7 linked regions of the Homo sapiens genome follow. The protein of the gene in region 1 purifies or fractionates together with the protein of each later gene. This does not show direct contact. Each region holds a gene or a part of one and is shown on either strand. Other genes may lie near its edges. The genes, in order: CX3CL1, SBF1, DIP2A, UGCG, DENND6A, ADCY6 and ATP7A.

Region 1 (3,500 bases):
GGTCCAAAATGTCAGTAGTGTCACTGTTGAGAAACCTTGCCCTAAGGGAAAAATGCTCCAGAAGTTAAAAAATTCTTATTCTCACAACCACACTGTGAAGCAGGTATTGTCACATCCATTTTACAAGTAAGGAAACTGAGGCTCAGGGAGTCCGAGTGACTTGCTCAGGACACACAGCTGGGCAATGGCTCAAGCCCTCCCTTTATCACCTCATCCAGCAACCCAGGACATTTCCTGAGTCTCCTTCTAAGACCCTGGAAGACTCTTAGAAGTCCTTGAGGTCCAGCCTAAAGGAGAATTCCTCCAAGAAGCCTCCCCTGACCATTTGAAGTTGGAAGTGGTCTCTCCCTCATGTAAACCCCAATATGTTTGTGGTATGTTCTGGAACACTGTGTTTCTACCTGGCATCTAGGGTAGCCTAGAACAGTGGGGTGTTTAGGGGCTGAGTAGAAAACTAGCTCTGCCACCATGCAGCTGTGTGGCACTGGGCACATTTAGCCTCTCTTATTTCCAGCTTCTGCATCTGTAAAGTTGGGATAATACTCCCTTTGCAGGAATGTTGGGAATTAAAGAGAGCAGATGTGTACATGCTGGACACAGGGTCCAATACACAGTAGGTGTTCAATTAAAAAAAATAAATAAAACCTCTGATACTTTGTGTGCCTAATTTACCTGTCCATCAGGCTGGGAGCCTTCTGAGGCCAGAGGCATTCCTTGTTCATCTCACTGTACCTCACAGCACCCAGCACAGGGCCTGGCAAGAGGAACCAGCATTTGTTGGTTGACTGAATAAACAGAGTGATCTGATGGCATTTATTGGGATGGAAGCACTCTCTTCAAACTCAGCACCAGTGCCTATGGGAGAAAGAGCTCAAGGTTAAGGATAAGAGGGCCTGAGATTTTTGTATATACTCAAAAGTAATTCCAGCCAGTGTTGGCTGAATCAGGAAGTGGATGGATGGATGGATGGATGGATGGATGGATGGATGGATGGATGGATGGGTGGATAGATGGATGAATGGATGGATGGATGGATGGGTGGATGGATGGACAGATGGATGGATGGAAGAAGGGATGGGGAGGGGATGATGAGGGATGGATGAGTAGGTGAGATAAAAGGGGGCGGAAGATTGACAGGTGGTAGGTAGGGGAGAGGGAGTGGGTAGATGGATGAATGGAGATGAATAGGGGTTGGGCAGGAGGTGGCAGGTGGGCGAGGAATGGGTAGAAGATTGATAAGAGTGGGTGGACGGGTGGATGGATAGGTAGATAGATGCATTAAAGAGAGATAAGTAAACTGAGACTAATTTCATTCAATGAATATTGATTGAGTATCCACCTTGTGCTTGATGCTGGGAAACTATGATACCAAGACAGACAAGGTCCCTGCCTTCCTGACACTCCTATGACAGATAATATATGACTGGCTGGATGAGGCATTGTCTCCATTTACAGAAAGGAAAATTTCAGCTCTGAGAAGGGACAGGCTCCCCAGGTCAGTTAAACAATCTTCCTGGCAGAACCAAGAACTGAGCCGGGCCAGGACCATTCAGGGACCGTGGCAGAGGGTGGGGACTTTGGAGACAGGATGACTCTGTGGCTCTTTAAAGCCCTGGAGGTGGGCAATGGCTTTTCCCATCTTGGATTTGGGGAGCACAGAATGGACCTTCTTTCCTATCCATTGGGCAGCCTCCCTTGCCTCCTCCTGTCTCTGGTCACTCAGGGGCACCGTATTTTCTGGGGCTTCCCAAAGAAGACACCTGCAGGCCATTTTAGGGGACTGCCACCTGGCTCCACTCAATAGGGCCTGGGGAGGCTGCAGGTGAGTCAGTCTGAGGTTCCATTGCAGAAGGAGGGTGGCCAGCCCACACAGTGACTTTTATATCCTGGTTACTCAGAGAGAAAGGACAGCCCTGTGACCTGGGGAGCCCCTCCTGCACACAGCCCCCAACCCCCTGAAGCTACTAGTGCTTCTCCTTGATGACTCAACCCAGACCTGCCGGCCCTAAACCACCTTCCCACAAAGCAGGGTGGGCCAAAGCTAAGGGGGAGCGATGGAGAGAGGAAGCAGCAGACTCTACAAAGTCTCTCTGTGTGTGCAAGCGTGCATGTGCCTGTATTTGGGAAAGTGGTGTATGTTTGCATGGCCACATATATGTAAATATTTATGCATGAGCAGTTCGTGTTCTGGTGGAGCCCAGGGATGCCCTGGGGGTTTCCCAGGCTCTGAAGGGCTAGATAAGATCAGCTTGCTCTCTTGACTGCCCTGGTCTCCAGATGTTTGCAAAACCCTCTGGGGTCTTGCTTTTGCTGCATATAACCTTGACTCAGATCTGAAACTCAAGCTCTTCCTTGTTTTTTATACTCATCCTCCTTGAGCTCAAGCTAAGCAGAAGAAAATTTGCTGGAGATTATAGAGGAAGAGAAAAGGTGGAAATTCAATGTAAACAACTTCAAATGTTTATATCAAATAGTTGGGTTTATTTGTCCTGTCCCGGGGTTTCTCTCTGGTTCCACGTGACACTCAGCTACTGCCTGCCCCTTCCGCCCCACTCTGCCCCCACCTTATTCATACCGTCCATCTCCAACCCTCCTCCTTACTCTTCTTGCTCCAGGAATTTCAAATGCCTCTTCCCTCCTAGGCAGGATGACTCAGTACCTTTCAGCAACTGCTCTCGGGCTCATTCTGGCTCTCAGCAGCAGAACAAAGGATCATCTATTCAGCAGACCCCACCTTCCTTAGAAAGCAGTTGTACTTATATATTTTTTAAAAAGTTTATTGCTGGGCATAGTGGCTTACATCTGTAATCCCAGCTATTCCGGAGGTTGAAGTGGGAGAATCACTTGCGGTCGGGGTTCAAGACCAGCCTGGGCAACATAGCAAGACCCTGTCTCTTAAAAAAATTAGCCAGGCATGGTAGCAGGCACCTGTAGTCCCAGCTACTTGGGAGGCTGAGGCAAGAGATCTCTTTTTTTTTTTTCTTTTTTTTTTGAGACGGAGTCTTGTTCTGTCACCCAGGCTTTAGTGCAGTGGTATGATCTCAGCTCACTGCAACCTCTGCCTCCCGGATTCAAGCAATTCTCCTGTCTCAGCTTCCCGAGTAGCTGGGACTAAAGGTGCACACCATCATGCCAGGCTAATTTGTGTATTTGTAGTAGAGACAAGGTTTCACCATATTGATCAGGCTGGTCTCAAACTCCTGACCTCAGATGATCTATCTGTCTCGGCCTCCCAAAGTGCTGGGATTACAGGTGTGAGCCACCGCACCCGGCCAGGAGGATTTCTTGAGCCCAGGATTTTGAGGTTGCCGTGAGCTAGGATTATACCACTGCACTCCAGCCTGGGCAACAGAACAAGACCCTATCTCTTAAAAAAAAATGGCAGCGGGAAGAAATAAGGCAGAGGTGAGGGGATAGGCAAGGCCACAGGCCCGGTGGGGACTAGAGCAGGAGAACCTGCTCCATCACTTGCTGGCTGTGTGACCTTAGCAGGTCCCTGT
Region 2 (3,500 bases), on another chromosome or scaffold:
ACGCCTGTAATCCCAGCACTTTGGGAGGCCGAGGCGGGCGGATCACCAGGTCAGGAGATCGAGATCATCCTGGCTAACACGGTAAAACCCTGTCTCTACTAAAAATACAATACAAAAAAATCAGCCGGGCGCGGTGGCGGGCACCTGTAGTCCCAGCTACTCGGGAGGCTGAGGCAGGAGAATGGCGTGAACCTGGGAGGTGGAGCTTGCAGTGAGCCGAGATCGCACCACCGCACTCCAGCGTGGGTGACAGAGAAAGACTCCGACTCAAAAAAAAAAAAAAAAAAAGGTCAGGGCTGGGACTAGAAGCCACGACTACAGCTGAGTGAAGCTTGAGCCCCTGAGCATTGCTGGGCACTGAGGGGGACACGGGGAGGCAGCAGCCACTGGCACTGGGGATGGTCGGAGACGCAAAAGGGACTCTGTGGGAAGCACAGGCATGGGGGGTGCAGGGGCGGCCCCACCTGCAAATGCCACTCAGGGTTTCTGGCAGGGGTGGGAAGGCAGCAAGACAGGGCGATTGTAAAATGTAAGTATATAATGTGGTATCTGGAAAAACAAAACCACTTCTGAACTAGAGAACAGGTGGTCCGGACACAGGAGTGAGTGTGGGGCCTATCTGCCACCCCGTCCTGGGGCCAGTCTAGCTCAGTGTGTGCAGGGCGCCTGTGAAGTGTGCGTGGCGGTGGGGACAGAGACAGCAAGGCCAGCTCGGGCAAGGCCCAAGGAACCAGGACACACGAGGACAGAGGCCAAGCTGCAGGCAGAGCCAGGCCAGAGGCTCCAAAGACAGTCTGGATTGGGGGATGCAGGGAGGGTGGAGTGTGGGGGATGAGGAAAAACAGTGACACTGGGAGGGAACAGGACAGAGGAGCATCTGGGATGTTTCCAGGCTGTGGGAAATGGTAAGACAGAGCCGCGTAGAGGCAGCACCCGGAGGACCCTACAGGAAGCTGCAGCAGACGCAGAGGTGGAGAGCGGGCAGGACGTCAGGGCGGGCAGGAGGTCAGGGCACACACCTGGTCTGGGCACACACTTGGTCTGGACAGGCTTCCCGCCCCTGCCCCACGGCACCCGGAGGGCATGCTCCTCATCCCACACCCAAACATCCATGACCAGCGCCGTTTCTGCTCCTCCCTGGCCTGCCTGCCAAACCATAAATGCCACCACGGCCCCCCAAAGTGCCCCTGCCCCACCGTCTGCCCACAAGCACCCTCACCGTGACTGCCCATGTGGGCTGAGGAGAAGCCGCTAAGCGTGTTGCGTCCCGACGCGTCGGCGTAGCGGGGCATGGAGCTGACCACAGCCTGCAGGTACTTCTCCTGCTCCAGGCTACTCGAGTCCGCCTGGGACTGGCCTGGGGGAGGACACGGAGCTGAGGGAGGGGAGGGTGAGATAGGGCAGGGCAGGCACAGGGCAGGACGCAGGAGGTACCTGGAGAAGGTGCGTTCTGGGCCTTGAAGAGGCCGACGACACCTTTGCCATGCAGGCCTCCAGAGCGCAGCAGCACCGCCTTGGACCGCCCGCTGCGCCAGCAGACCACGGGGAAGCGGTTCTGGCGGTAGCAGCGGGACACGCGCTGCAGGGCGTTGTCCTGGACACTCTGGGGCACGATCAGCAGCCCTGGGTAGCTGAGAGGAGGCAGAGGCGTGAAGGTGGCTGGCGACCCCACCCGCCTCCAGGCTCACGCCCCAAGCAGGGCAAGAGGAGCCAGCCCATGGCTCCCAGCAGGAGGCGCTTCCAGCTCAGCCACGGGGCCCCCCAGCCACCCCCCAGCCCTGTGGCCCGTCCCTCTGCCCGGAGTCTCCCCCTCCACATTCCTTACATGACCAGAAGCCGTGGCCCAGGCCCACAGCGGGCAGGGAAGACACCCAGTCACGTGTCCACCACCCGGGCCAGCCCTGGCCGGCCCTCACCTGCGGCAGATGGCATACATGCGGTTGACCGGAGAAATGCGGAAGGGCTCAGACTTGGCCCGGCTCAGGCTGCTGCTCAGGGTGCCCAGACCGAGGCGCTGGTAGTCGCGACAGCAAGCCCTTTCCACCAGGCTGCTCATGGTCATGCGGTCGGAGGGCTTCAGGGCTGAGGACGGGGTCAGCGTGCTGGGCTCCAGCTCCTCCGACACTGCACAGGCCGGGCACACGTGGTCATCACGGGGCCACTCCGCCTGCCCTGATCCTCCCTGGCCAATGTCAGCATCCAGAGACCACCCAGGACTCCACCCCCACCCCTCCACCTGAGATCTCGTCCTCCTGGTCCTCAGGGGGCGGCTGGCCCCGGTGCTCCCAGCTGGGGGGGTTGTACTTCTTGCGAGTGACATGCTGCCGCCCGATGGTCTTCTTGGCGTTCTTGACCAGGTTCCGGGACAGGGTTCTGAGGCCCACGAGAGTCAGCAAAGGTGAGAGGAGGAGGGACAAAGATGAGCACAGGGGCCTAGGAGGGTTGGAGCGGGAACACGGCTGAGGCCCAGCTGCCCTGCCTGGGACCCAGATCCATACCTGAGGGAAGGACCCTTGTCCTTGGTGACTCGCGGTGGCCGGCCAGGTGTGTGGGCAGAGCCCAAGGTGAACGCAAAGGTGGCCCTGATGTCCGGCGGGTACCGCAGCTTATGCAGCTGCTTACGGAAGAGCTCGGCGCTGTCAGACCCCACCTCCTCGTCAAAGGCCATTTTCAGCAGCTGTGTCAGTAAAAGCAGCCCTTAGGGGTGTGGGTGGCCCCCCAGCCCCTCCCCCAACTCTGACACTGCCAGGCTCCCCTTCCCCTCGCAGCCATGACAGAGAGAGAAGCAGGCCCCAGGCAAAGGCCTGTATCTGTGTCACACGAAGGCAAGCGCTTGTGTAAACTCGAAATCTCAGTGGCTGTGAGCTGAGGCCTGGGTTTGCAAGGCACACCCAAGACACGGACTTGAGGGCCGGCGCCCCAAGGAAAGGACAAGGACCCAAAGACCGCACATCAAACAGTGGACATCAACTCAAGAGCCACAGTGAGGGCCCCAGACATGCAAGCGTAACAACAGGGCCACTGCTGGAGACTGGCCTAAAAATGGTTCATACAAGAAAGACCGGTTTGCAGGAGAAAGACCAGGGCGGGGGATGAGAGCCCCACCCGCGCACCGCGCCCCACCTGGAATGTGCAGGAGCGCAGCTGGAGCCCGTCCTGCAGGAGCTGGTCCACAGGGGTCTGGACGCTGATGCGCTTCTCCTTGGTCAGCGCAGCCACCGGGAAGGAGCGGACCACCACCTGCTCCCCAACTTAGGACAGGCCAGGCAGAGTCAGAAGCAAGGAAGGTAAGGGGGGGGGGGTCCCAGAATCTCAGGGTACCACAGTTATGGGGAATCCCAAGTGGGTGGGGAAGGAGCAGACAAAGGCCCGTTTCCCACGGGCACCCAGAACCCCCGAGAAAAGGGAGAGGGAGGCAGGGAAAGCCCATCCATCCCAAAGACCTGGGGGAGAGGGGGCGACAGGGCCAGAGAGTCTGCAGGCTCACCCAGGGGGTCCGT
Region 3 (3,500 bases), on another chromosome or scaffold:
AGTAGTTTTGTTCAATTCTAGTATTACAATGTAAGAAAACTACTGAGTCCATTTTTACAGTTTTTAAAATTGTCACAGTGTACCCCATAAATATATACAATTAGTACTTATCAATTAAATAATATTAATTTAAAGATATCTCAAGTTAAGTATCTGACATTTGAAGTAAATCAGGTGCTGACTATACTTTATCAACAGATCATCTATAACCATAAAGATTCTACTTATATATTTATATCCATGACAGCTGAGGTCAAAACTACAGTCATAGATAAAGTAATAGAAAACTAAAAGTGTTTTCCTCTTTTTGAATGAAAAATGCCCTGACCCTCAGTATGTCACAGAGTAAGCCAGCCCCCCAGGGCAGGCCTGTGAACCCAGCACTGTGTATAAATCAATCAGTGGGATATAGGTTCCATGTTCCATAAAATCAACATCCATGTGCATTTACTGAAAACAACCCTGATGGGGTTGTCTGGACTCTGCTAAGAGACACCGTGTGCCCTCTTGGCCAGCACAACCACAGAGACCCTGTAAGCATGCTAAAGACAGTGCATCTCCCTACCTGGCATGACCCGGATTAATGGGCAAAGGCACTACCCAGGGGTGGTTTTGACAGGTGCAGTGACAGTCACATGATTAGGTACGTCAGGTATCTGTGTGAGGCTGGAGGGGCCACCGCCCCACCCCCGAGAGCCCTTACCTTCTGAGTACCCGCACGCCTGGGTCAGAGCCCGGCACTGTGCCAGCAGGGATGCGTGGGACACTGTGACCCCCACCGTACTGCCTTCTTTGCTGGTTTTATACTGAAAGATTTCAAGGAAAAAAACATGATGTGGTATTTCTAGAGGTGACAACAGACAGAATGGAAACTGGTAGAATCTTCAAAAGAAGAAGTGGTCAGTGTCTCTCCTCTAACCATCGGCCTCTAACCAGCAGCCCAGGTACATGGCAAAACCCTGGCCGCTGAGGGGATGCTTCAGTGGAAGTTGTGGCTCCTCTTGGGCAGGTGCCCGAGGGTAATGGTGCGCCATGGGCTCCCTCATAACTGTCTGCATCCCCAGGGAGCCAGTTAGGAGAGAATTAGATGAGAGAGAAACCTGGAAGGATCTGAGCAAGGATTTATATGACACTCTGTATTTCCAGGGCAGAGATAAAACAAGAACTCTTAGGCCGAAACTTAACAAAAAAGAATAGCAACTTACATTCTTATGAAAAGCAAGACTTAAGCCTGTGGGACATGTTTTTACATTCTCTAAGTTAGGAACAGTCATTACCTCAATGTAGGCAGTCCCAGTCCCTGTGTCCTGGGCCAGAGGGTGCCAGTCCTTTGGGGGCTTGGCTAGATGCTTCCCATCAATCACTAGCCAGGAGAGCGGGGGCCAACCTGTGACACACAGACAGGACACAGAACAGCAAGCAGTCAGAGGCATCTGCTCCCCACACTCGAAGCCTGCGCCTCCAACATGCAGCACTAGCTACTGAGCGAATAAGGAGTGCAAGTTTTAGTCTCATTTCATTTTATATAATTTAAAAAGGTACATCCGGCCAGTGGCTACCACATTAGACAGTACAGGTCGAGACATGAAGCCAGATGAAAACCGAGATTCACCAAGGACTCGAACAAGGGATCACTTTTGCTGAAGACCCAGACACCTCTGTCATGTTTAATTTCTGGAACACCATGCATTTAACACAGACCACAGTCAGAACACTGACTCCCCTTCCCTTGGGAGGCCTCACCTTTGAAAGCTGCCACCTCTCCTGTCTGTGCCTTGGGGAGGCCTTTCTGACAAGCGTCTGTGGTCAGGGCCAAGAAGACTCCACAGCTGCCCAGCAGAAACCCAACCTGCTGGCTGCCTGCATCCTGCAGAAAGCAGAGTGACCGTGTGGGGTGGGGTGCTCACAGCAGCCACAGCCCCAGACCCTTGGTGCTCCAGGCCATGCACAGAGAACAGATCTTTTTTTCATCCCTCATAAAACTTCCAGAATAATTCAGTCCCATTATTGATATATATGATCTTTTCACGGAAATAGTTCATGAAAATGTGACAACTATGTTTAAATTTAAAAGATAATTTTGGTTTGTATTTGTGTTGAAATATAAAGTTTAATGGGCTAATTTCTCAAAGTTTATTCTTACAAATGACATTTAGAAGCATTTTTAATAAACTCCAAAGTTAATGGCATTGAAATTTCTATTGAATCATGTTTGAAATTTACAAATTAATCTAGAGAGGCCTGGTCACCAACGATATTAAATTATTTCCACACAGAAACACATTTCCTTGTAGCCAAGTCTTCTGTGTCCCTCAGCAGTATTCTGTCATTTTCTTCATATAAATTTGACAAATCTCTAGTTTTACTCCTAAGAACCACTGCATTCAAATACCTGCCCATCACATATTATGCTTTGAGATACACTAGTTTGATTTGCAAATTTTACTTTTGGGATTCTTGAATATTTCTGGATAATGCTCCTGTTAACAACTGCCTGAATTCTGGGACAGGATGACAGAAAACTGATTTTCTCAAATTCATGCCTTGTCTATTTTTTTTCAGTAATCATATTATTGATAGTTATATCAAAAATGTTACAGATACCTAGATCAGCAAGACCCCACATTAATAATTTATCAGCAACAGAAACTGCCTACGGTCATATAAGTGAACAGAAATGCAAGATAATTTCCATCTCGTTTATTCAAAACTGCCACTGAGAAGTGAGCTATATCACTGTAATGATATATTTATCCCTAAGAAATAATAATTATTTTCTATAAACATATGGTTTTGAGGAAAAGTTGAACAAAATCTTATTGAATCATAATTCTATTCATTAGAGGAAAAAATGGCTATCATTTCTGTTGGGAAATTCATGTAGATGATAGAACAGCTCCACCTAATAAGAGTGTGGTGTGGGAGCATCACCAGCAAAACGGTTCTCAGTGCCCCTCTCATTAACAAGAAGAGAGGCAGGCAAAACGGCATCTGATTTCTCTTGAGTCCTGGCCAGCCTGTTGACTACTAGCTTTCTCTCCTCTGTCAAAACAGCTGCTTGCTGCCTGCCCACATGAGTGAAAAGGAAGTAAGATACTGCTGGTATCAAGTTCAGAAGCGAACCACACGGGACCTGAGCCATGGGTTTGCTACCTTTCTTGTTAATGGCACTTCTATGGGGACAGGAACCAGCTCTGCCAGGAGACACCCATAAAATGCAACCATGAACATCACAGGGTCACTATTCGGAAACACGAGCGCCACCTACAACAGGACAAAGAAATGAATATTCCAAATTTCCAATTTTTACAATATCTAGTTAAATTAAAAGCTAGTTATAAATAAAATTTTTGTAAGCCCCAAATATTGTAATAATTGTGCTTGAAACCATAAGGGACAAGTCCAAATAGTATTTAACTGAGTAGAGACAGTTGACTCAGGGCCTTTGAGAACACGCAACAATGAATAACCAATAAGTGCTGACTTTGTAAGACAAAATT
Region 4 (3,500 bases), on another chromosome or scaffold:
AGTAAATAAAATGCTGTGAAATCAAATATTTCCCTTAGATTGCAGGTACTTTGCACTTCTCCTCTGCTTTCCAAACTTTCTATTTATACAGCTAAATATAAGTTTATAATTAGAAAATAAAATTCTGTACTAACAAAGAATAAAATAATCTGCAGATGCTATTCTTCATCTTACAATGAATGTCAAAATAGCTTTCTCCTCAACCCACTTAAATGATATAACTAAATGGAAAAAGAGCTACTACTCTAAGTGAAAACAAGAGCTCTTGAGATCATTCTAAACTGTAATTTCCAAAACAATTTTTTATTTCAATTTTTTAATTTTTATTTTTTTGAAGGTGGGGGTCTCACTGTGTTGCCCAGGCTGGTCTTGAACACCTGGCCTCAAGCAATCCTCCCGCCTCAGCCTCCCAAAGTGCTAGGATTACAAGCACAAGCCACCACGCCTGGCCAAAATCTTCATTCACAAGAAATCAGTTATGGGGTCATTAGAAATGCTCGTAATCAATGGATACATATAACCCTGGGGTTACTTTTTAAAATTCTTTCAGTAGGGCATGGTGGCTCATGTCTGTAATCCCAGCACTTTGGGAGGCTGAGGTGGGGGGATTGCTTGAGCCCAAGAGTTCAAGACCAGCCCCGGCAACATGGCAACACCCTCTACAAAAAATACAAAAATCAGCCAGGTGTGGTAGCACATGCCCATAGTCCCAGCTACCAGGGAGGGTGAGGTGGGAGGACTGGTTGAGCCTGGGAGGCTGAGGCTGCAGTGAGCCACGACTGTGCCACTATGCTCCAGCCTAGGTGACAAAGCAAGATACTGTCTTAAAAACAAAAACGAACACAAAAAACCATTCTTTCTACAACTAAACCCCTCACTGACTTCCTCAAGCATTTAAACCCCATGACTATCATCTCACAAGCACTACAACGTAAAAATTCCATGACCAATTTTAAGAGTGGTTGAATGGGGAAAGTGAAAGAGGATGGTTAAAAAACTGAAATGTGAGATTAAGTTTCACAATGATAATGCATATGACTCTAAGCTATGCTCTAAGATTCATTCATAATCAATAGAAAATTTCTTTCATTCGTAAACATTAATTCTCCTTTGCATTTACTTTTATGGAGCTTGAAAATCTCCCATTTTTCTTACTGCAAAGCTTATTTTACAATTAATTTTATTTATATCTTTCTCAATTACAAAAGGCTAAGTTTTACCATTTTTTAGTTTGAAAAAACAAGTATATACAATTATATCTTATTTAAAAATTATATATTTGATTGAAGTTAACACATGTATTTAATTCAAATATCTAAAATTATTAAGCATATAAACACACACAAACTAGAACATATAATTTTTTTGCTTCAAAACAGCTTCCAATACTCCAAAATTGGCTTCTAAACTCCAAAACTCCAAAGCAATAATATAAAAACACTAAAAATACAACTGAATGATACTCATGTCTACCTACTTAATAAGTGCTGCATTAAGGCTATCACATCTGTGTCTTCTCTATTCTTTTCATTGGTGCTACCGAGAAAAATAAAGGCTAAAAGAAAAGAAATAAGAGCATGAAAACCAGTCACCATAAGAAGTGTAGTGCGCATATCATCTTCCTTCTGATTATTTGAGCTACCCTGTCCAAAAAAATTAAGAGGGACGACTCTCCCAGTAGCAAAAACAGCTATGGAAAAACTGAGGCAATAGGGTAAAAATTGAGGCAAGTGAATAGAGACCGCAAAGGGAAAACTAAACTGTACTGAAAGTCAAGTGGGTAGAAGCTTAAAGACACATTCTTCTCACAAGTGATCTGTTACCACCAAAATGCCCTTTCAAAAGCAGTCTCAAGCAATTTAATACAAAGCTGCTGTAAAGCTAAGTACAAAAATCAAAGAATATTAAGTTATCCTAAGAAACTACAGGTGGACTACTAAAGCAAAGTGATAAAAAGAATACTTTCATCTCAAGAAAACTGGAAGGTCTCCAATTAAGGGAGTACACTGAGTTTACAGATATACAGATTATATAGATAAATGGTATAAGCAATACAATTAGCTATTAAAATCAGAACAGTAAGGAAATTAAAAATGAGGTAAGATGAAACCCTACAGTACCACTAACTGTAATCTATTCTTGGCTCAAAGCCAGTTTCTCCGGAGAAGTCACGTTTAGTTCTGGCTGTACTGCAACCCATTTCAGACCACTAACACTGCTTTCTCCCTCTCCTTGTCTCCTCTTCCTATTGTTCATATCCAGCTCTTATGGAAGAAAATTTTTATTTTCAAACTACCAGGCACTTGACAATGTCTGAGTTTCAGAAGGTTTACTCAGGGATCTCTACTTCACACGGACATATAGGTGGTTAGAAAGGGAATTTACACCCCTTCCTCAACCTATTTCTGTTCTGTGATGACTACTACTAAAGGTTATATTTTATGAGGCCAATATCATCATGAATTTTTAATACCTTCACCTTATACAGTGTTAAAATCCCTAAATGTTTATCATGAGGGGAACAAAACAAAACAAAACAAAACAAAAAACCGTAACACTGAACTTACTTTGGGATAATCCAATTCAAAGAATGTTTCCAGGTTGTTGATTAAGTTAGGATCTACCCCTTTCAGTGGTTTCAGAAGAGAGACACCTGGGAGCTTGCTATAAGGCTGTTTGTCAGTTGCCTTCTTGTTGAGGTGTAATCGGCTAAAAAGCAAATGATATAAAAATTATTTCTATAGAATACATTAGTGTCAAATCAAAGCACTGACAAGCTATCAATAAATCCCTAAATTCTAAGTTAAGATTTTTAAAACTTGACATCTTTCTAAAAGAGGATCTAAACATGAAGGGAAGTAGAACCAGGTAAGCATGGCTTTGAATGCGGTCCAACACAAATTCATAAACTTTCTTAAAACATTATGAGATTTTTTGCGATTTTTTAAAGCTCATCAGCTATTGTTAGTGTATTTTATATGTGACCCAAGACAATTCTTCTTCTTCCAATACGACCAAGGGAAGCCAAAAGATTGAATACCCATGATGTACTACTCTCTGACTATTGCTATACTCACAGAACTATGCCAGGCATAGCGCAGGCATTTCAATAAAATACATGGTGAAGAAATGAATGGCAGTGTTAGCCCAAAGATTAACTCCTCTTCCTCTTAAATTGCCACTGAAGTGGCCACAGAACTATAAAAACAGGTAAAATAAAACACCGTCTGCAGCAGAAAATTATGAAAGGATAACCAGAACTTTCTGAGAAATTTCTTTGCAGTGGGATAATACACAGTTAAAAGAAGTGTCAAGCAGTCTGCATGGCAAGCAAGATAATGGGACAACTGGAACTCCCAATATTAATAAGGTCAGAATGGCAGGGGTAGAACAGAAGGAAACTGAAAGTAAGAAAAAAACTCAATGATGAGAAAAATGTCTATTAATGACACTGGAAGATATACCAGTGCCACCAGTTCATAGATAAGTGACCAAATGGC
Region 5 (3,500 bases), on another chromosome or scaffold:
GGCTGGAGTGCAGTGGCACGATCTCAGCTCACTGCAACCTCCGTCTCCTGGGTTCAAGCAATTCTCCTGCCTCAGCCTCCTGAGTAGCTGAGATTACAGGCGGCCCGCCACCATGCCCAGCTAGTTTTTGTATTTTTAGTAGAGACGGGGTTTCACCATGTTGGTCAGGCTGGTCTCAAAATCCTGACCTCATGATCCGCCCGCCTCGGCCTCCCAAAGTGCTGGGATTACAGGCGTGAGCCACTGCATCTGGCGGGAAACAAGAATTTAAAAACAACAAACTTACTTGCCCCACTCTTAAAACAATATTATGTAATTCATATCCAGGAGACAAGACATGTGCTAATCAAAGGTGTTAGTGATGGGGGTAATTAACTAAGGGTTGAGCATCCCTAATGTGAAAATCTACATTACAAAATGTTCCCAAATCCAAAAGGTTTTGAGCATTGACATGATGCCACAAGTGGAAAATTCTACTTATGACCTCAAGGTAAGTCAAAGTCAAAATGCAATCAAAATTTAGTTGCATGCACAAAATCATTAAAAATATTTTTTTAAATTACGTTCAGGCTATGTGTATAAGGTGTATATGAAGCATAAGTGACCCTTGTGTTTAAACTTGGGCCCATCCCCAAGATATCTCATTATGTATATGCAAAAATCCCCAAATGCAAAAAAGTCCAAAATCCAAAACACTTCTGATTCTGACCATTTCAGATATGGGATATGCAAGATTACCACAAAAGCTAAGATAATCAGTAACAAACAATAAAGCGTAAGACTCATACCCAGAAGTTCAAAAGAAAAAATGTCCAATAATTGAACTCTATATTAATTTATGCCAATTCTGCAAATTATTCCTTAATGAGTCAAGTATCAAAACGAGAAATGTACACATTCTTCTTAGTATATTTTGCCTGTAATATTTATTCATTTTGGGGACACTCCCTCTTTTCATCCTAATAATGCCATAACATGTACTTTTTAAGAAAATTAATTTGTTTTAAAAGTCACATTTATAATTTATATGCAGTAAAATTTACCCTTACCAAAGATCTAGAATAGTTCCATCACCTCACGAAATGCCCGCAGCCCTTATGTAGTAGATTTCCTCCCCCAGCCCCAGGTAACCACTGATCTGATTTCTGTCCCTATAGTTTTATCTTTTCCAGAACATCATATAAATGGAATCATTCAGTATCTTTAAATTATCTGGAAACTTTCACTTAGCATAATGCTTTTGGAAGTCTTTCACATTGTTGCATGTATCAACTGTTCCTTCTTTTTTTTAACTGCTGAATAGTATTCCATGTGCATTCATGTATTACATTTTGTTTGTCCATTTACCAGTTGATGGATACTTCGGTTGTGTATAGTTTTATACTGTTATGAATAAAGCTACTATATAGACATTTGCATACAGGTCTTCATGTAGACACATTTTCATTTTTATTGAATAAATACCTAGAAATAGGATGACTGTACTGTGCTAGAGCAACATATAAAACTAACCAATCTTTTTTTTTTTTAAACTAACCAATCTTTTGAAGCAGTATTCCATGTAGTTTACAAGTCATAAAAAACAAACAAAAAGGTCAGCCAGGCGCAGTGGCTCACACCTGTAATCCCAGCACTCTGGGAGGGCAAGGCAGGTGGATCACTTGAGGTCAGGAGTTCGAGACCAGCCTGGACAACATGGTGAAACCCCATCTCTACTAAAAATACAAAAATGTAGCCAGACATGGTGGTGTGCACCTGTAGTCCCAGCTACTTGGGTGGCTGAGGCAGGAGAATCGCTTGAACCTGGGAGGTGGAGGCTGCTGTGAGCCAAGACTGCAGCAGTGCACTCCAGCCTAGGCAATAGAGTGAGACTCTGTCTCAAAAATAAAAGAAAAAAGATCCCACCAAAAAAATCCATTTTAAGTCTTTCATGACTTTTTGAGCATTTCGTAACTGCTCATTTATAGCAGTGGTTTTTCAAGCTGGCCTATACATCAGAACTACCTGGGGAACTAGAACTTGGGTACCAATCCAAAGATTTAGCTGCTCTGGGTAAAGGCACAAACATTACTTTTTATTTTTCCTCTATTTCTTTTCTAAGTGCTAACAGTATCTCTTTTTTGTTTTTTCATTTTCCATGTTGACATTTTTCAAACATACAGAAAAGTAAAAACAACAGTGTGAGAAACATCATATACATATCACTCAGATTTAATGATTAATATTTGCCATTTTTCACGTCATCTATTTTTTCTTACTGAAGTATTTTAAAATAGAACACAAACATCATGACATTTCACTCCCAAATAAAATGCATCTCTTTTTTAAAAAAGCATGTTTTCTAACATTATTACAATATAATTCTCACACTAAACCAAACAAAAATATTTTTACATATAATACATATTCTATATTTAAATTTCCCTAATTGTCAAAGCTTATAACATGTACCCAGGGATGAACCATTGATTTATAACATGTAAAACATAACTATTTTCTTCCAATTTTTTCCACATCCTATATAATATTCATTTTTTAAATAAATTAACACCACCACCACAAAGCAAAAGGAAGTCAGTTAATAAAATTTTTTATTCTTTACCTGAAAATATCCACCTCATGAACAGTAGGTAAAATAACAGATATATTTGTGTCCACCTGAGAGATAGAAAAGAAAAATAAAAGAAGGTATCACCAAAATTTATGGAAAATTTTAAAATATATCTATCTCATGATCAATAAGCCATGCTGCCCTGTCTAACTTTTAAGATTCTCTTCCTTTAGGAACAGCCAGAGAGGGAATGGGTCTTACCAATATTCCCTAATATAGCAGAAAATCAAAAATAATGCAGATAACATGGATAAAGAATTAATCCCGGCCAGGCATGACAGCTCATGCCTGTAATCCCAGCACTTTGGTAGGACAAGGCGGGCGGATCACAAGGTCAGGATATCGAGACCATCCTGGCTAACACGGTGAAATCCCATCTCTACTAAAAATACAAAAAATTAGCCAGGCATGGGGGCAGGCGCCTGTAGTCCCAGCTACTCGGGAGGCTGAGGCAGGAGAATGGCGTGAACCCGGGAGGTGAAGCTTGCAGTGAGCCGAGATTGCACCACTGCACTGCAGCCTAGGTGACAGAGCGAGACTCCATCTCAAAAAAAAAAAAAGAATTAATCCCAAGCTCATGCCTGTAATCCTAGCACTTTGGGAATCCAGGAAGGAGGATCACTTGATGCCAGGAGTTCGAGACCAGCCTGGGTAACAGAGTGAAATCCCATCCCTACAAAAAATATTAAAAATTAGCCAGGCATGGTGGCATGCACCGTAGTCCTAGCTACTTAGGAGGCTGAGGTGGGAGAATCACTTCAGCCCAGGAATTGGAGGCTGCATGAACTACGATTGTGCCACCGTACTCCAGCCTGGGAGACAGAGGGAGACCCTGTCCTTGTTTAAGAAAAAATTAATCCAATAGTAAATCAGATTAATTTGCAACTGT
Region 6 (3,500 bases), on another chromosome or scaffold:
CAGGCTGGTCTTGAACTCCTGACCTCAAGTGATCCGCCCACCTCGGCTTCCCAAAGTGCTTACGGGCATGGATTACAGGCATGATCCACCGCACCTGGCCCCTAACACATTTCTTAAAACTCTGTGAAATAGGTAACAATATCCCATTTTAAAGGTAAGGGAATGAGGCACAGAGAGGCCAAGTAACTTCCCCAAGATCACACAGCTGTTAGTGGCTAGTGTGAGACTTGAACCCAGGACAATCAGATTCCAAATCCTGTGTCCTAATCCTACTATCTATCTACTGCATTCCATACTTTGTAGTGCATTCCAGGTTTCCAAGATTCCTACTCACTCTACTGAGTCAAGCTCTCAAGCCCAACCTCAGAGCCCTGGCTTGAGAGTCATCAGTTCTACTGATACAAAGGATGTCCCCTAATTGGAGATGGGGTCCACCATGCCTGGCCACCCCTCAAGGTGTAACTCCCTCTGACACTCAGCCCTGCCAGGCCCTAGGCCTAGGGCCCCACCCTAGGAATGTTCAGCCCCCAATCATCATCAGCGGCACTGGCTAGAGAGCAAGTCTAAGGGAAGCTGGCCTCAGTGTTTCTGGAAACTCAGGAATTAACCTGGAGCTTGCGGCTCCACCCCAGAGTTGGATGGGGCAGGGCTCTGGTTTAAGGAGAAGGGAGAGAAACAGCAGAAGCACTTCCTGGAAGCCAGAGGTTCTGGGCTCTAACTTGAACTAGAACTAGTCCTGCAAAATTGGGCAGGTCACTTAAACTTTGGGACCTCAGTTTCCTCTTGGGTAAAACTGAGGGGGAGGCCTGGCTCACCCCTAGCCATTTCCAGCTCCAGCCTCTGGGATGGGCCTCCTAGCTTCCCTTCCCAGTCCAGCTCACAGGCCCAGGATCAACTAGGCTGAGCTCCCCCTCCCAGCAGCAGGGGTGAAGAGAGGGGCACACTATCTCCCTTGGGGGTTTCTAAGAATAGCCCCCAGTGGGGGAGAAGGGAAGGGGGGCAAACCAGGCAACTTCCCTTCCTGGCCCCAGGAGCCCAAGAGGAAAATGTGAGTCACGGTGGAGGGAAGGGGAAGGGGGACGAGACTGAAATAACTCTGTACACACACATCCCTATCTGACTATGAGAAAAAATGGATGCCAGGGGACCGGAGGAGACTCCAAGCTGGGCCTGGGTCACTGGGTGACACTGTTCAGTATGTCTAAATGAGTGGGTCGGTAGGGGACAAAGTCTCCTTCCTGTGATTGTGAGTAGGGGTGGATCTGGGAAGGGGCTGCCCAAGTAGACGAGGAAGGAGGCCACAAACCCCACCTGTCTAGAAACCCACATACCCAAATGGGCACAGGGAATGTTTCTCAGCCCAGAGGAAGTTGTATGGGCAGCTCTGGCCCCAAGGACTGGCACAGGGGCAGCAGTGAATTTCGCCACTGCCCCAAGAATGTGCCTATCGAGATCCACTACATGAAGCTGTAGCCAGACACTCCTGGGGAGACGGGCACAGTCCTGGCCTCCCTGGGACTGCACCTCCCCAGTCAGGCACTGGGCCTGGCTCTGGGCACCATGCCAGTCGAGAGCAGGGAACAGATGCCCACCCAGCCCATGCCTGGCCAGAGAGGAAGGGGGAAAGGAGACACCACCTCTAAGCTCCTTCCCCAGGAGGGCAGTCCAGCCATAAAGCCCTGGTTGAGAGCCACCCTGGAAGAGAAGCTTTGGGGCAGAAGGACCTGGCCCTTTAAGATGTCTGACAGTGCCCTAAGGGCACGTGCTCCACAAACAAACGGGCTATAAAGTTACTTTTAAAAAGGTACGTTCTGGCATTCTGGCATTCTGGCCAGGTGCGGTGGCTCACGCTTGTAATCCCAGCACTTTGGGAGGCCAAGGCGGGTGGATCATGAGGTCAAGAGATCGAGACCATCCTGGCCAACATGGTGAAACTTGTCTCTACTAAAAATACAAAAATTAGCTGGGCATGGTGGCGCGCTCCTGTAGTCCCAGCTACTCAGGAGGCCGAGGCAGGAGAATCGCTTGAACCTGGGAGGCAGAGGTTGCAGTGAGCTGAGATCGCGCCACTGCACCACTCCAGCCTAACGACAGAGCAAGACTCCGTCTCAAAAAAAAAAAAAAACCACAAAAAAAACAGGTAAGTTCTGTTCTGCAGCACAGGCTGGGTGGAGAAGGGCATCATGCCAGAGAACCTAGCTTCTCACCCTGGGATCCCCAGGCAACTTCCTCTCTGTGCCTGAGGCAGGGTGGGCAACAGGCCACAAGCCTTCAAAACCTTGAGCAAGACAGCACTCTCTAGTTAGGGTCCAGTGGAGGACCCAGGCGCTGTGCTGATGGCGGGGCTGTGCCTACAGCAGCGCCTGAAGGACCCTGGCCTCTGCTCCCTGGGCAGGGGGGTAACAGGAGATGGCAGATCCACAAACTAACATCTCTCTGAAAGGGACTTCCCAGAAACCCCTTCACTGGGTACCATGCCTTCCAGCACTCCCCAAACCTCCCTGCCCCCAGGTGTGAACACTGCCCAGTCGGGTTCTACTCCACTCTAGGAAAGGGTGGGGCCCCAACAGCAACATGAGCTAGATGCTATTTTTATTCCAGCTTTGCAGACTGGGAAACTAAGGCTGGGAGAGGTGAGGCTAGTTGTCTAAGATCCCACAGAAAAGAATACAGCCCACTGGATAAGCAGGTCAGCCTACAGCCACTCCACACGGAGCCGTGGAGTCCCACCTCACACACACTTGGAGCCTGGAGGCAGCAACAGGCATGGACAGAGAACCTCAAGGAAAGGCGCCCAGGTCCCTGGTGCCCAGCATGGGGAAGGTGGGATACGATCAGACTTAACGCTCCTCTCTTCAACAGTCCAACCCCATTCAAACCACATCCAGCCCAGAGAGAACTGACCCCAGCTCTTCACCTTCCCTGTCCTCCCAGAAGTGGCCTTGGTCCAGGAAAGAGGGGACTCCTCTCTTGCTGACAACATCCAAAACCTGCTCTATACCTCCAGATCACCACCTAGAGCTGCTCTTCAGGGATAGCACCAGCGCCTCAGTCTCTGGTGTCAACTTGCCTGCTGAGATGCTAAGGCCTGGACACAGCCTGCACTGCCTTTTCAGCCCCACGGTGGCCCTGGGGCTATATACCACACCCCTGCCTCCAGCCCCACATTCTGTCTCTACAGACTGCACTATTTCAGCGGGCTAAAGAGCCGGAGACTGGGGCCCATGGTGACAGAGTTCAGGCTTGGGTCCTGGGGCCCTCCCTCCCCTCAGCAGTGTCCTCTACCCCAGATCCCACATGGAGGCAGACCCCTCAACCCTAGCCTCCCACCTCCTGCTCCTCCTCCCAGATACAGCCAGACATCCCTGCACCCAGCTTCCACCCATGACTCACCCGCCCTTCCTCACTAAGCCCCCACCTGCTTATGAGGTGAGAAATTCCCCACCTGCTGCCCTCCATCCCTACCTCCCTGGCCACCTACCTGCTTCCAGAGGAAGGCA
Region 7 (3,500 bases), on another chromosome or scaffold:
ATAGTCCATGCTCTTATCATTTATTTCTATGACTTTGTTTAGAACTGGTCCCCTCACCTAGAATGTTTTCTTGCACATATTTAAGTTCTATTACTTCACTAGTCTGTAAACTCCACAGAAACAGGACCATATCTGCTCTGTTCACTATCATACCACCAGTGAACATGGTGGCTACTCAATAAATCACTGTTGAGTAAGTAAATGAACTGAAGTCCCACCTCCTTCATGAAAAATCATGTCAAATACTCCTAGCCACTTTCTTTTTAAATTCCGAATACCCTGGAATCAGTTTCATAGTTTAGTAGTACCTAATTTCTCTCTGCTTGGTATTAAACTTCTTTCTCTTGCTAGACATTGGAACATATGCCTTATGCTTCTTTGTATAGCTCACAGGAAACACTGAATATGCAATAAGCACACAATAAAAATGTACTAATCAAAGTGCTGACATGCTTTGTAAAAATTCAATTTACACACAACTTTGTAAGAATGCAGCTATTTGCAGAGTAGGTTAGACATACATAAGGCCTTTTCCCTTGCTTACACTGTATCACAACTTATTCAGTACAAGTATGGTTCAGCATTTGACAATTAGGGAATGTGGAAAATCTCGATGGCCTAGAGTCTGTGGCTCACTAATTACAGAAGCAGATTGTTATGAGTTTTCTTGATAGGGAAATAGGATGAGCACATCACAGTGATTTGATTTGCCAGCTGTAATAATGAGCTTTAAGATGCCATGTTAGCATATGTAGGTGTACTATAGGCTACTGGGGGACCCTCTCAATCTGAGTTTTCCATTTTCTTTCTCTTTTTTTTTCTTTTTTTTTTTTTTTTTGAGACAGGGTCTCACTCTGTCACCCAGGCTGGACTGCAGTGGCATGATCTCAGCTCATTGCAGCCTCAACCTCCCAGGCTCAAGCAATTCCCCCACTTTAGCCTCCCCAGTAGCTGGGACTATAGGCGCATGCCACCACACCTGGCTATTTTTTGTAATTTTTGTAGAGATGGGGTTTCACCTTGTTGCCCAGGCTGGTCTGGAACTCCTGAATTCAAGCAATCTACCCACCTCAGCCTCCCAAAGTGCTGAGATTACAGGCGTGAGCCACCGCACCGGCCAATTTTCTATGGTGTAAGTTAGAAATTAAGTATTGTGCCGGGCGTGGTGGCAGGGCCGGGAGCGGTAGCTCAAACCTGTAATCCCAGCACTTTGGGAGGCTGAAGCGGACAGATCACCTGAGGCCAGGAGTTTGAGACCAGGCTGGCCAACATGGCGAAACCCCATCTCTACTAAAAATAAATAAATTAGCCGGGTGTGGTGGCACACGCCTGTAACCCCATCTACTCGGGGGGCTGAGGCATGAGAATCGCTTGAACCCTGGAGGCAGAGGTTGCAGTGAGCCGAGATCGTGCCATTGCAACTCCAGCCTGGGCTACGGAGCAAGACCCTGTCTCCAAAAAAAATTTTTTTAAAGAATTTAAATATTGCTTGCAAGTATTGATTGATTAGTATATTGATCCTGTAGTCTACTAAATTTATAGTACAGCAAAACTGTAATTTATAATTTTATTATATAGGATGTTAAAATTACTTTTACAGTAAATAATATATTAAAATATTAAAGGTAACTACATTTTATTGTATGTTTACTATCTGCCAGACACCGTACATGTATTAGATCATTAACAATCCTGTGAGACAGGTACTGTTATTGTCCCCATTTTAGAAATTTGAAGGAACTGAGGCACAGAGGAGTATGAAATCTGCGCAGGGTCATACAAGTAGTAAGCAGAGGGGCTGGGATCCCACCTAGACAGTCTAGCACCTGGACTGAGCCAGACAAGACAGGCTTTTTTTTTTTTTCCGGACAAGACAGGGTCTCACTCTGTCACTCTCTCATCCAGGGTGGAGTGCAGTGGTGTGATCTCAGCTCACTGCAGCCTCAACCTTCCAGGCTCAAGCGATCCTTCCACCTCAGCCTCCTGAGTAGCTGGGACTACAGGCACGTGCCAACACACTCAGCTAATTTTTGTATTTTTTGTAGAGACAGGGTTTCCCTATGTTGCCCAGGCTGGTCTCGAACGCCTGGGCTCAAGCAATCCGCCTGCCACGGCCTCCCAAAGTGCTGGGATTACAGGCGTGAGCAACTGTGCCCCACCTAGCCTCCACTCTTAATCCTATATTATACTGTCTCTCCAAAACAATATATCGCAATACAATGGTGAAGTTAAGATACCTTGAAGCATCAAGAGAATAATATCTAATACTCCAGAAAATGTTCAAAGATATTACTGTCAAGATGAAAAAACAAACATAGACCATTTCACTCCAGCCTAGGTGACAGAGCCAGACTCCATCTCAAAAATAAATAAACAAAAATAAACATTAGGTGTTTTAGTATATCTAAATATACATTTAGTATATCTTTTCTTTCTAGGAGAATCTGAGAATACAATTAAGACACCATTTTTAACACTAGGTGTTTTAAGGCCTGGCACAGTGGCTCATGCCTGTAATCCCAGCACTTTGGGAGGCTGAGGAGGGTGGATCACTTGAGGTCAGTCAGGAGTTCGATACCAGCCTGACCAACATGGCAAAACCCCTTCTCTACCAAAAATACAAAAACTAACCAAGTGTGGTGGCGCGCACCTGTAATCCCCGCTACTTGGGAGACTGAAGCAAGAGAATCACTAGAACCCAGGAGGCGGAGGTTGCAGTGAGCCGAGATAGCACCACTGCACAGCACGATGCTGTCTCTACAAAAAGTTTAAAAATTAGCTGGGAGTGGTGGCACACACCTATAGTCCCAGCTACTCAGGAGGCTGAGGTAGGAGGATCGCTTGAGCCTGGGAGATCGAGACTGCAGTGAGTTATGATGGCGCCACTGCACTCCAGCCTGGGTGACAGAGCAAGACCCCATCTCTTAAAAATAATATTATTTAAAAAATAATAATTAATTAATAAATAAGTAGCTAGGCATGGTGGCATGCGCCTGTGGTTCCAGCTACTTGAGAGGCCAGAGGATCATTTGAGCCCAGGAGATTAAGGCTGCAGTGAGCTATGATTGTGCCATGGCACCCTAGCCTGGGCCACAGAGCGAGGCCCTGCCTCTAGAAATAAATACATAGATAAATAATAACAATAACATCTTTTAAAATAAAAATAAAATAAAATAAGGTTAATGGCCAGTCTAAAACAATATCCCTACAATGTGAAATAACCCATTTATTTCAACTGGTAAATTGTTAAAAATGCACTCCTGATTATAGGTCTGAAAAACTGGACTTCTACACTAGAGATTAATAGTAAAAATAAGTAAAACTCTTTTTTCATCCTTGAGACATAGCTGTATAATTTTAAATGTGAACAGAAAATATGGTACAAAGTACACATAACTGACTCAAAATGGGGTATTTTACCCTCATTTCCTTCAAGGAAAGAGGTATCTGTGAAAACTGATGTAGTCTACCAATATCTCATACATTTGGGCACAAAAAGA

What was found.
Region 2: the proteins of CX3CL1 (region 1) and SBF1 purify together in Homo sapiens (affinity purification with mass spectrometry; one large-scale study listed by BioGRID and IntAct). This does not show direct contact.
Region 3: the proteins of CX3CL1 (region 1) and DIP2A purify together in Homo sapiens (affinity purification with mass spectrometry; one large-scale study listed by BioGRID and IntAct). This does not show direct contact.
Region 4: the proteins of CX3CL1 (region 1) and UGCG purify together in Homo sapiens (affinity purification with mass spectrometry; one large-scale study listed by BioGRID and IntAct). This does not show direct contact.
Region 5: the proteins of CX3CL1 (region 1) and DENND6A purify together in Homo sapiens (affinity purification with mass spectrometry; one large-scale study listed by BioGRID and IntAct). This does not show direct contact.
Region 6: the proteins of CX3CL1 (region 1) and ADCY6 purify together in Homo sapiens (affinity purification with mass spectrometry; one large-scale study listed by BioGRID and IntAct). This does not show direct contact.
Region 7: the proteins of CX3CL1 (region 1) and ATP7A purify together in Homo sapiens (affinity purification with mass spectrometry; one large-scale study listed by BioGRID and IntAct). This does not show direct contact.

What each region holds. Positions count from the first base shown.
Region 1 is NC_000016.10:57,375,490-57,378,989, forward strand, and holds part of CX3CL1 (fractalkine isoform 1 precursor), read left to right. Parts: intron 1-3,500. UniProt on the Homo sapiens protein: Chemokine that acts as a ligand for both CX3CR1 and integrins ITGAV:ITGB3 and ITGA4:ITGB1. The CX3CR1-CX3CL1 signaling exerts distinct functions in different tissue compartments, such as immune response, inflammation, cell adhesion and chemotaxis.
Region 2 is NC_000022.11:50,458,036-50,461,535, forward strand, and holds part of SBF1 (myotubularin-related protein 5), read right to left. Parts: coding exon 3,488-3,500; intron 3,252-3,487; coding exon 3,124-3,251; intron 2,678-3,123; coding exon 2,499-2,677; intron 2,374-2,498; coding exon 2,237-2,373; intron 2,125-2,236; coding exon 1,917-2,124; intron 1,632-1,916; coding exon 1,435-1,631; intron 1,358-1,434; coding exon 1,220-1,357; intron 1-1,219. UniProt on the Homo sapiens protein: Acts as an adapter for the phosphatase MTMR2 to regulate MTMR2 catalytic activity and subcellular location. Promotes the exchange of GDP to GTP, converting inactive GDP-bound Rab proteins into their active GTP-bound form.
Region 3 is NC_000021.9:46,531,891-46,535,390, reverse strand, and holds part of DIP2A (disco-interacting protein 2 homolog A), read right to left. Parts: intron 3,265-3,500; coding exon 3,154-3,264; intron 1,868-3,153; coding exon 1,744-1,867; intron 1,388-1,743; coding exon 1,278-1,387; intron 807-1,277; coding exon 704-806; intron 1-703. UniProt on the Homo sapiens protein: Catalyzes the de novo synthesis of acetyl-CoA in vitro. Promotes acetylation of CTTN, possibly by providing the acetyl donor, ensuring correct dendritic spine morphology and synaptic transmission.
Region 4 is NC_000009.12:111,913,814-111,917,313, reverse strand, and holds part of UGCG (ceramide glucosyltransferase), read right to left. Parts: intron 2,710-3,500; coding exon 2,568-2,709; intron 1,556-2,567; exon of another isoform or gene 1,478-1,555; intron 1-1,477. UniProt on the Homo sapiens protein: Participates in the initial step of the glucosylceramide-based glycosphingolipid/GSL synthetic pathway at the cytosolic surface of the Golgi.
Region 5 is NC_000003.12:57,655,078-57,658,577, forward strand, and holds part of DENND6A (protein DENND6A), read right to left. Parts: intron 2,659-3,500; coding exon 2,603-2,658; intron 1,419-2,602; exon of another isoform or gene 1-1,418.
Region 6 is NC_000012.12:48,779,090-48,782,589, forward strand, and holds part of ADCY6 (adenylate cyclase type 6), read right to left. Parts: coding exon 3,482-3,500; intron 1-3,481. UniProt on the Homo sapiens protein: Catalyzes the formation of the signaling molecule cAMP downstream of G protein-coupled receptors. Functions in signaling cascades downstream of beta-adrenergic receptors in the heart and in vascular smooth muscle cells.
Region 7 is NC_000023.11:77,913,693-77,917,192, reverse strand, and holds part of ATP7A (copper-transporting ATPase 1), read right to left. Parts: intron 1-3,500. UniProt on the Homo sapiens protein: ATP-driven copper (Cu(+)) ion pump that plays an important role in intracellular copper ion homeostasis.